Homo sapiens: one gene and its partner. The protein of the gene in region 1 purifies or fractionates together with the protein of each later gene. This does not show direct contact. Each region holds a gene or a part of one and is shown in the gene's direction. Other genes may lie near its edges.

Region 1 (4,276 bases):
TAATTTTTATCAAAGTTATGTTTAATACATGCATATATTTATAAGAGTTAAATAGCTCTGCAGAACTATAGTCACTTGTCACTTAATGATGAGGACCTATTCTGAGAAATGTATCATTAGACATCATTTGAACATGATACAGTGTGCTTGCACAAACCTAGATGGTTTAGCCTGCTACACACCTAGGCTATATGGCATTGCCTGTTGCTCCTAGGCTACAGCATGTTACTGTACTGAATACTGTAGGCAGTTGTAATACATCATAAGTCTTTGTGTGTTCAAACATACAGAAGGTACAGTAAAAATATGGTATTTGTAATCTTATGGGACCACTGTCATCTTTGTGATTGTTGACCAAAATGTCTTTATATGGCACATGACTATATTTACAAAAACAGTAGGTCTCTGCAAATTTCCCCTCATTTCAGGCTGCCTAGGGGCAACTGCTTTCAACTCATTCTTTTGATACTTACTTCCATATTTGAAACTGGCATTTTTTTTTTTTTTTTTTTTGAGACGGAGTCTCACTCTGTCACCCAGGCTGGAGTGCAGTGGTGCGATATCACCTCATTGCAACCTCTGCCTCCCGGGTTCAAGCGATTCTCCTGCCTCAGCCTCCTGAGTAGCTGAGACTACAGACGCGCGCCACCACACCTGGCTAATTTTTTGTATTTTTAGTAGAGATGGGGTTTCACAGTGTTAGCCAGGATGGTCTTGATCTCTTGACCTCGTGATACGCCTGCCTCGGCCTCCCAAAGTGCTGGGATTACAGGCGTGAGCCACCATGCCCAGCCGAAACTAGCGTTTTTATAGTGTTACTTCTTGATTTTTCAGTTTAAGATATTTTTCAGTTTAAGTAAAAATGAGGGTTTACCACTATCCCCAACCACACACAAGCACACATTTTAACCCTGCCCAGTACTCCCAATATTGTCATACTGCAAGTCGTTTGGATACATCCGCATTTCATAGAGATGGAGTTTCACTATTATTGCACAAGCTGGTCTTGAACTCCTGGGCTTAAGCAATCCTCCTGCCTCAGCCTCCCAAAGTACTAGGGCTATAGGCGTGAGCCACCATGCCCAGCCTGTATACATCAGTATTTCAGTTTATAATGACTCCATTTTCACCATGTTAGCTAGGCCAGAGTTAGTAATTTTTAACAATTTTGCTTTGCTTAGTTTTCTGTATACTTATTAAATTAGCCAAGTGGTTATCAATTGGGGCCCATTTTCTCTCCAGAGGACATTTGGCAATGTTGGGGGAGGGGAGGAGAGTGCGGGTGTGTGCTACTGACATCTAGTGGGTAGAAGCCAGGTATGCTGCCAAATATTCTTCTGCACTGCACAAGACAGCCTCCTGTAACAAAGAATTAGAAGGCCCACAATGTCAGTAGAGCTGTTGTTGAGAAACCCTGATTTAGCCCAAACTATCTCTCAAGTGTATAAATGGCTTATCTTCAAACCTACCAATTTTGACTTCGTGAGAAGCTCTTTCCCAGGGCCTTCTGACCTACTCCAGTTTGAACTTGTTAAAGCTAGAACTTTTGTGCAGCTGTTGTCTTGGACTTGCTTTACTGTCATCTTTATGATTCTCTCAGTTCTGTCTTGTTTTGGAGCCCCTGTTTCTGTATCTGGTATCTTTGGCTGTCTTTGTTTACTTTCTCATTTTGAAGGGCCACTTTCAATAGTTCTCTGGATGGGATAGAATTTTTTCAAGACTATACATGTCTGTAAATGTTTTTTCTCCCCTCTTGTTTTATGGATAGTTTGGCTGGGCAGAGAACTCTGAGTCAGAAATAATTTTTTCTCAGAATTTTGAAGGCATTGCTCTACTGTCTTCTATTTTTCTGTGTCGATGTTGAGATCAGATGCTTAGAACATCCTTTTCAACTATTTTGAAACTTTCTTTTTTTCTCTTTGCGAGCTAGAGAGAGAATCTTTGTCCCCAGAGTTCTGAAATTCTTGTATTATGTAGTTATATGTCTGTTTTTTTAATTCATTCTGCTAATCCTGTTCAATCTGGAATTTATCTCATAAATTCTGCAAATTTTCCTTAAATAATTTCTTTGATTTCCTCTCCTTCATTTTATCTCTCCTCTCTCTTTTGAATTCCTGTTGTTAGATGTTGGGCCTACTGATGGGTTTCTCTAATTTTCTTGTCTATTTTCATCTATTTTCCATTTCTTTACATTTTTTTTCTTTGCTTTCTGGGAGATTTTTCTCAACTTTGTCTTCCAGTTTTTCTACTAAGTTCTTATTTCTGCTATAATATGTATAGTTTCCATTCCTTTTTTTGAAAAAAAAATCCTATATTTGTTTTATGGATGCAGTGTCTTATCTCTCTTAGGAAATATTGGTAGTTTTTTTTTTTTTTGTCTGCATATTCTTTTTCTTCCAAATTTCCTTTTTCTGTTTGTTTGCTTTGGTCTTTATCTTTCATATTTGTTGCTTTCCTTAGATGTCTCATGATCCTTGGCAGTCTGTGCTTATTTAAGAGAGAGGCCCTAAGCTGAATGGAAGCTCTGCTTTTGTGTGATTATGGTTTTTTGTGTAGGATGGTAAATCTGGATGATTTCCTTGCAGACTCCCAGTCTTAGTCCATTTGGGCTGCAAAAACAAAATACCATAAACTGGGTGGCTTATAATCCACAGAAATTTATTTTTCACAGTTCCTGTGAGTGAGGCTGGGAAGTCCAAGATAAAGGTGCCGGCAGATTTGGTGTCTGGTAAAAGCCTGCTTTCTGGTTCACAGAGCAGCACCGTCTCGCTGTGTCCTCACATGGTGGAAGGAGACAAGGCAGCTCTCTGGGGCCTCTTTTACAAGGGCACTAATCTCATTTATGAGGGCCCTGCCTTCTTGATCCAGTCACCATCCAAAGATCCCACTTCCTAATATCATCATATTGGCAAGTAGGGTTCAACATGTGAATTTTGGGGTAAGGAGACATAGGCATTTAGACCAGGGCACCCAGTGACACATCTTTTCTTTTGTGCTGGATTGTTTTCCCAGACAAAATTTCTCATCTTTTGCCAGGAGAGAACAAGCTTGAGAGCTGAGTAGGAAAAGGGGATATGGGTCTCATCTTTAAGCATGCAGATTAACCTAATTCCCCAGTTTTCATTATGGCACCCTTCAAATTCAATTGAGCATGTTGTCCTCTAGTCTAGATATATCCTGTTATATGCTCTCTAGAGATTGTTTAGTCTTTTATCAGAAAGGGTTGAAGAGTAGAAGAGGAGGTCTGGGGATTTTCACTACTTCTTAGATTTTGGTCAGTTCTAGTTTGGACTCCACTCTCGTTCCCAAAGTGTCTGAAACTTCCAGTTCCTGAGCCCCTTAGTTTATTTTTTTGTTTGTTTGCTTTAATGTATTTACACAAGAATTGCGGAAAGAGTACAAAGTTTCCGTATACCCTTCATCCAGCTTCTTTTTATCTTAACATCTTATATAACCATAGAACGATGATCAGAAGAAATTAACCTTAGTATAATATTATTAACTACACTACAGAATTTATTCAGATTTTACCAGTTTTCCCTCTTATAGTTTTTGTTTGTTTCAAGATCCAAATTTAGGATACCACATTGCATTTGGTTATCATATCTCCTAGTTTCCTTTTATCTGTGATAATTTTTCAGTCTTCATTTTCAAGATCTTGACACTTTTGAAGAGTACTGGTCAGTTATTTCATGGAATGGCTCTCAATTTGGGTTTGTGGATGCTCTCTCATGAATAGATTGAGGTTATGAATAAAAAGAAGGATTATCACAGATGGGATGTGTTCTTCTTAGTGCATTATGTTGGTAGGGGGGCATGATGCTGATACGTACTACTGGTGATGTTAACCTTGATCACTTGGGTAAGAGGGTGTCTGCTAGGTTTCTCCACTGTGAAGTTACTATTTTTCCCTTTAATAATTATTAAGTACTTTGATTTAAAGTTACTCAGCCAGGCAGGTCAAACTTTAAAAATAAAATAGCTTTTAAAAATCAAATTCTTTGAGACCATGCAGATAACCTATTTCCCCCTAAATTTCTGCCCACTAATTTTATCATCTATCTGTGATCTTGCCTGCAGCAATTATTACTGTGGCTTAATAATAGTGATTTTCTATTTCTCTCATTATTTCTACATTTATTAATTTAAATTCTTCTGTGAGGAGAATTTGTCCTTCCCCCCACCCCCATTTATTTACTTATTTATTTGTATCAGTATGGACTTATGGATATTTATTCTTTGGATTATAATCCAATTCTATATCATTTATTTTGTT
Region 2 (3,938 bases), on another chromosome or scaffold:
TGTGGAATCAATCCTACATTCATGTTTCCCTGGTGCAAGGCAATTGGAACTCACCAGGGTGCTCTTTTGACTGTCAGCATATGCCAGGAAAGGAAGCAACAACCTGTTGTTAGATTTTTAAGCAATCAATTATCAGTTTTACCAGCTTATATTTAGAAATCTACAAAATAAAAATAGATATTCATGGTGTAGGAAGGACTGATACAGATTCTGACCTACCAAGCATACTTCCTAGGAATCTCATTCTTTTAGCATAAGTTATAAATACCAGGGATGGTTCTATCTAAATCAGGATGTCCAGTCTTTTGGCTTCCCTGGGCCACATTAGAAGAAGAATTGTCTTGGGCCACACATAAAATACACTAACACTAACAATAGCTGATGAGCTAAAAAAAAAAAAAAGGTGCAAAAAAATCTAGTGTTTTAAGAAAGTTTACAAATTTGTGTTGGGCCACATTCAAAGCTGTCCTGGGCCGCATGTGACCCACCGGCCGTGGGTTGGACAAACTTGAATTCTAAACATTAAAATTTGGTCAGATAATAGACTGTATGAAAATATATCACGTACTTAAAGTGCGGCGTCCGTAACATTTGGTTTTAAAGGCAACTTGAGTCATTACTAATTAATTATATCTCACATTATTATAATGACATATTTCAGAAACACAGTATTGCAACGCTCTGTAAAATGTGCAAATCATTTTAAGTAAAAAAATTAGGAACTTAAACTTATGGAAAATTTTGAATATATTCAAGAGAACAGACTTAGTATACTAAACTATCAGGTACTCATCCCTCAGTTTCAACATCTGCCAATTCATGGTCAATCTTATCTCGTTTATTCCCTATTTCTCTCCTCTCCTATATTATTTTGAAGCAAATCCTAGACATTACTTCATGGATAAATATTTCAATATATATTTCTAAAAGACAAAGACACTTTTAAAATAAAACCACAATACCTTATCATACCTTAAAAAAATTACAACAATCTGTAACATCATCAAAATATCTAGTCAATGTTGACATTTCCACTTGCCTCATAAATGCCATTTTTTTCATAGTTTATTTGAATTAGGATCTAAAATAAGGTCCACATGTTGTCTTTATTTGTTTGTTTTTTTTTTTTTTTAGATGGAGTCTTGCTCTGTCGCCCAGGCTGGAGTGCAGTGACACAATCTTGGCTCATGGCAACCTCCGCCTCCTGGGCTCAAGTGATTCTCCTACCTCCACTTCCTGAGTAGCTGGGATTACAGGTGCACACCACCACACCTGGTTAATTTTTGTGTTTTTAGTAGAGACGGGGTTTCACCATGTTGGCTAGGCTGGTATCAAACTCCTGACCTCAAGTGATCCGCCTGCCTCTGCCTCCCAAAGTGCTGGGATTACAGGCATGAGCCACCACGTCCAGCCACATATTGTCATTTTTTGATGTCTACAATGGTAACTTTTCTTTGTTAATTTAATAATCTGTTGCTTTCTCTGATTTCATTTATATGATTAATTATTTTGCAACTCTGGTGCACAGAATTAGGTAGGTTATCTTTGGTCATGATATACTCATATGGGTCTGTGCATACCCATTTTTAAATTTATTTTTGTGTGTGGTTGTTTGTTTTGAAATTGTAACAAGCCTCATGAACTCTCAATCTAACAGGAAAACTAAAACTTTGACGTGACATTTTCTGTACAGTTCTTCCCTATCCCACCTCGGTTTTCGCCCAGTGTGGTAACCACAGTCTTGAATCTTGTGTTCATTGTTGTTCTGCTTTTCTTTTTATGTAGTTTCCCTTCATCCAAATGTATCCCTTACAAAATTAAATTCTTCATTTTACTTTTTAACTTCCTTTAAAGTTTATCATGTTATACTTAAATTTCTAGTACTTCTTTTTGGCCTTGTATCTCTAAGAGTTACCCATATTGGATGTCATTGTGTGAATATACAAATTCATTCATCTACTCTCCTGTTTATAGGTATTTGGGTTGTTTCATTTGTTTCCAGGGTTTTGCAATTGTGAAAGGTGCTTTTCCCTATGATTTTAATTTTTAAAATATGTATTTCAACTTGTTTTTCATCAAGAAGAGCCTTCTGGAAATGTCACTCAGTGTACAGTGGGTATGATAACTATGCCTGTTATCCAGAGGGCACTCTACTAGCTGGTCTTGAATAAGTTATCTATAGTGCAACCAGTAGGAGCTTACTGATACAATATTTGAGGATTTTGCTGAGTATTTTAGCAAAAAGGGTAAAATATAACTCAGTTATCCCAGCAAGGAAATTCAGAGACTTTTTTCCTTTTAACTTAAAAGGCACGGGGGCTGGGCTTAGTGGCTCACGGCTATAATCCCAGCACTTTGGGAGGCCGAGGTGGGCGGATCAGGAGTTCGAAACCAGCCTGGCCAACATGGCAAAACCCTGTCTTTACTAAAAATACAAAAATTAGCTGGGCATAGTGGCATGTGTCTGTAATCCCAGCTACTCAGGGGCTGAGGGAGGAGAATCACTTGAACCTAAGAGGCAGAGGTTGCAGTGAGCCAAGATCACGCCACTGCACTCCAGCCTGGGGAACAGAGCAAGACTCTGTCTCTAAATACATAAATAAATAAATAAATAAATAAATAAAGGAATGGGTAAGTTGACTTGGAATTACTACACATTTTGATCTTATTTTGAGTTATTATTTGATATATTTGTGGAAAAGTAATTGCTTATAAACATGTATACCAATAAAAATTATGCCAATTAAAACTTCAATTGTAACCATTTTTGTTTTATTGTTTAGGAGACAAATGACCTGAAGCGTGCTGGACTCATGCTTCAAGAAGCAGATAAACTGGGCTGCAAACAGTTTGTTACTCCTGCAGATGTGGTTTCAGGCAATCCTAAACTTAATTTAGCTTTTGTAGCTAATTTGTTTAACACATACCCGTGCCTGCACAAGCCGAATAATAATGACATCGATATGAATTTACTGGAAGGTGCGTTCTTTCTGCCTTTAATTGACTTGCTATATTTATCTTCTTATGGTATTGTCTTACTTCACTGTCAGAGATAGGGGATTGTGGTGGGAAATGCAATTTAGTGTGTGTAGGTATGTGTATCTATTGAAAAATTAAAATTATGGAAGGTGGTTGCTGGTTTTGGTTAAAAGAGAATGCTGGGGTAAATCTTTTATTTCTCCATAAGAGGTTAGTGAAAACTATCATACATTTAAAATATTCTCATAAATGATCACATAACAGCTCTACCACCAACATGGACAATGAATTATCTATTAGAATAAAATAATTATTTGTAGGTGTTTTTCTCCTTTGAAAGGTCCAGTTTGACTCTAGTATTGTTCTCTTTTTAAGGTTTTTAGTGTACATGAAAAAAATTACAGTGTTCGTTATTTGTCTTTTGTGTGGTCTATCGTTATCTGTCTCATAATATATAATACTTTCCTGTTTTGCTTCATGAAATGCAGATTTGACCCCTCCTAATGTAGGTACTGTATTTAGTACTTTTCTATACTCTATAAATATATTCATTCTGAATGTTCTTTTTATTAGTACCATTTATTCTTTCCATCTGGGTTGATATTTTACTTTTTGCATTGTTCATGCTGTGTTATTTCTCTCTTAATATGCCCATAGAATGAAACACAAATAAAACTTAATTAGAATAGCAGAACAAAGCTTTGATTTTGTAAAATTTCTACCTAATTTGCCTTCTATAATGATGGGATATTGTAGTTGTAAACACATTAGAACTCAATTTTGAGAACTGGAATTCATGATTTGATGTAAAATCTTTATCCTTCTCCTGTGACAAAATGTCAAGTAATCTTTGAAAGGATTCATTTAGGTTCTATAACATATTATTTTGTATCAATTAGCTATGTTATATTTACTGAACCTCATTGAAGCTTACAGTATATGAATCATAATAACAAAAC

What was found. Proteins that work in one complex are often made in the same cells at the same time.
Region 2: the proteins of USP47 (region 1) and PLS1 purify together in Homo sapiens (affinity purification with mass spectrometry; 2 studies listed by BioGRID and IntAct, with this or other methods). This does not show direct contact.

What each region holds. Positions count from the first base shown.
Region 1 is NC_000011.10:11,848,115-11,852,390, forward strand, and holds part of USP47 (ubiquitin carboxyl-terminal hydrolase 47), read left to right. Parts: intron 1-4,276. UniProt on the Homo sapiens protein: Ubiquitin-specific protease that specifically deubiquitinates monoubiquitinated DNA polymerase beta (POLB), stabilizing POLB thereby playing a role in base-excision repair (BER). Acts as a regulator of cell growth and genome integrity.
Region 2 is NC_000003.12:142,686,835-142,690,772, forward strand, and holds part of PLS1 (plastin-1), read left to right. Parts: intron 1-2,783; coding exon 2,784-2,979; intron 2,980-3,938. UniProt on the Homo sapiens protein: Actin-bundling protein. In the inner ear, it is required for stereocilia formation. Mediates liquid packing of actin filaments that is necessary for stereocilia to grow to their proper dimensions.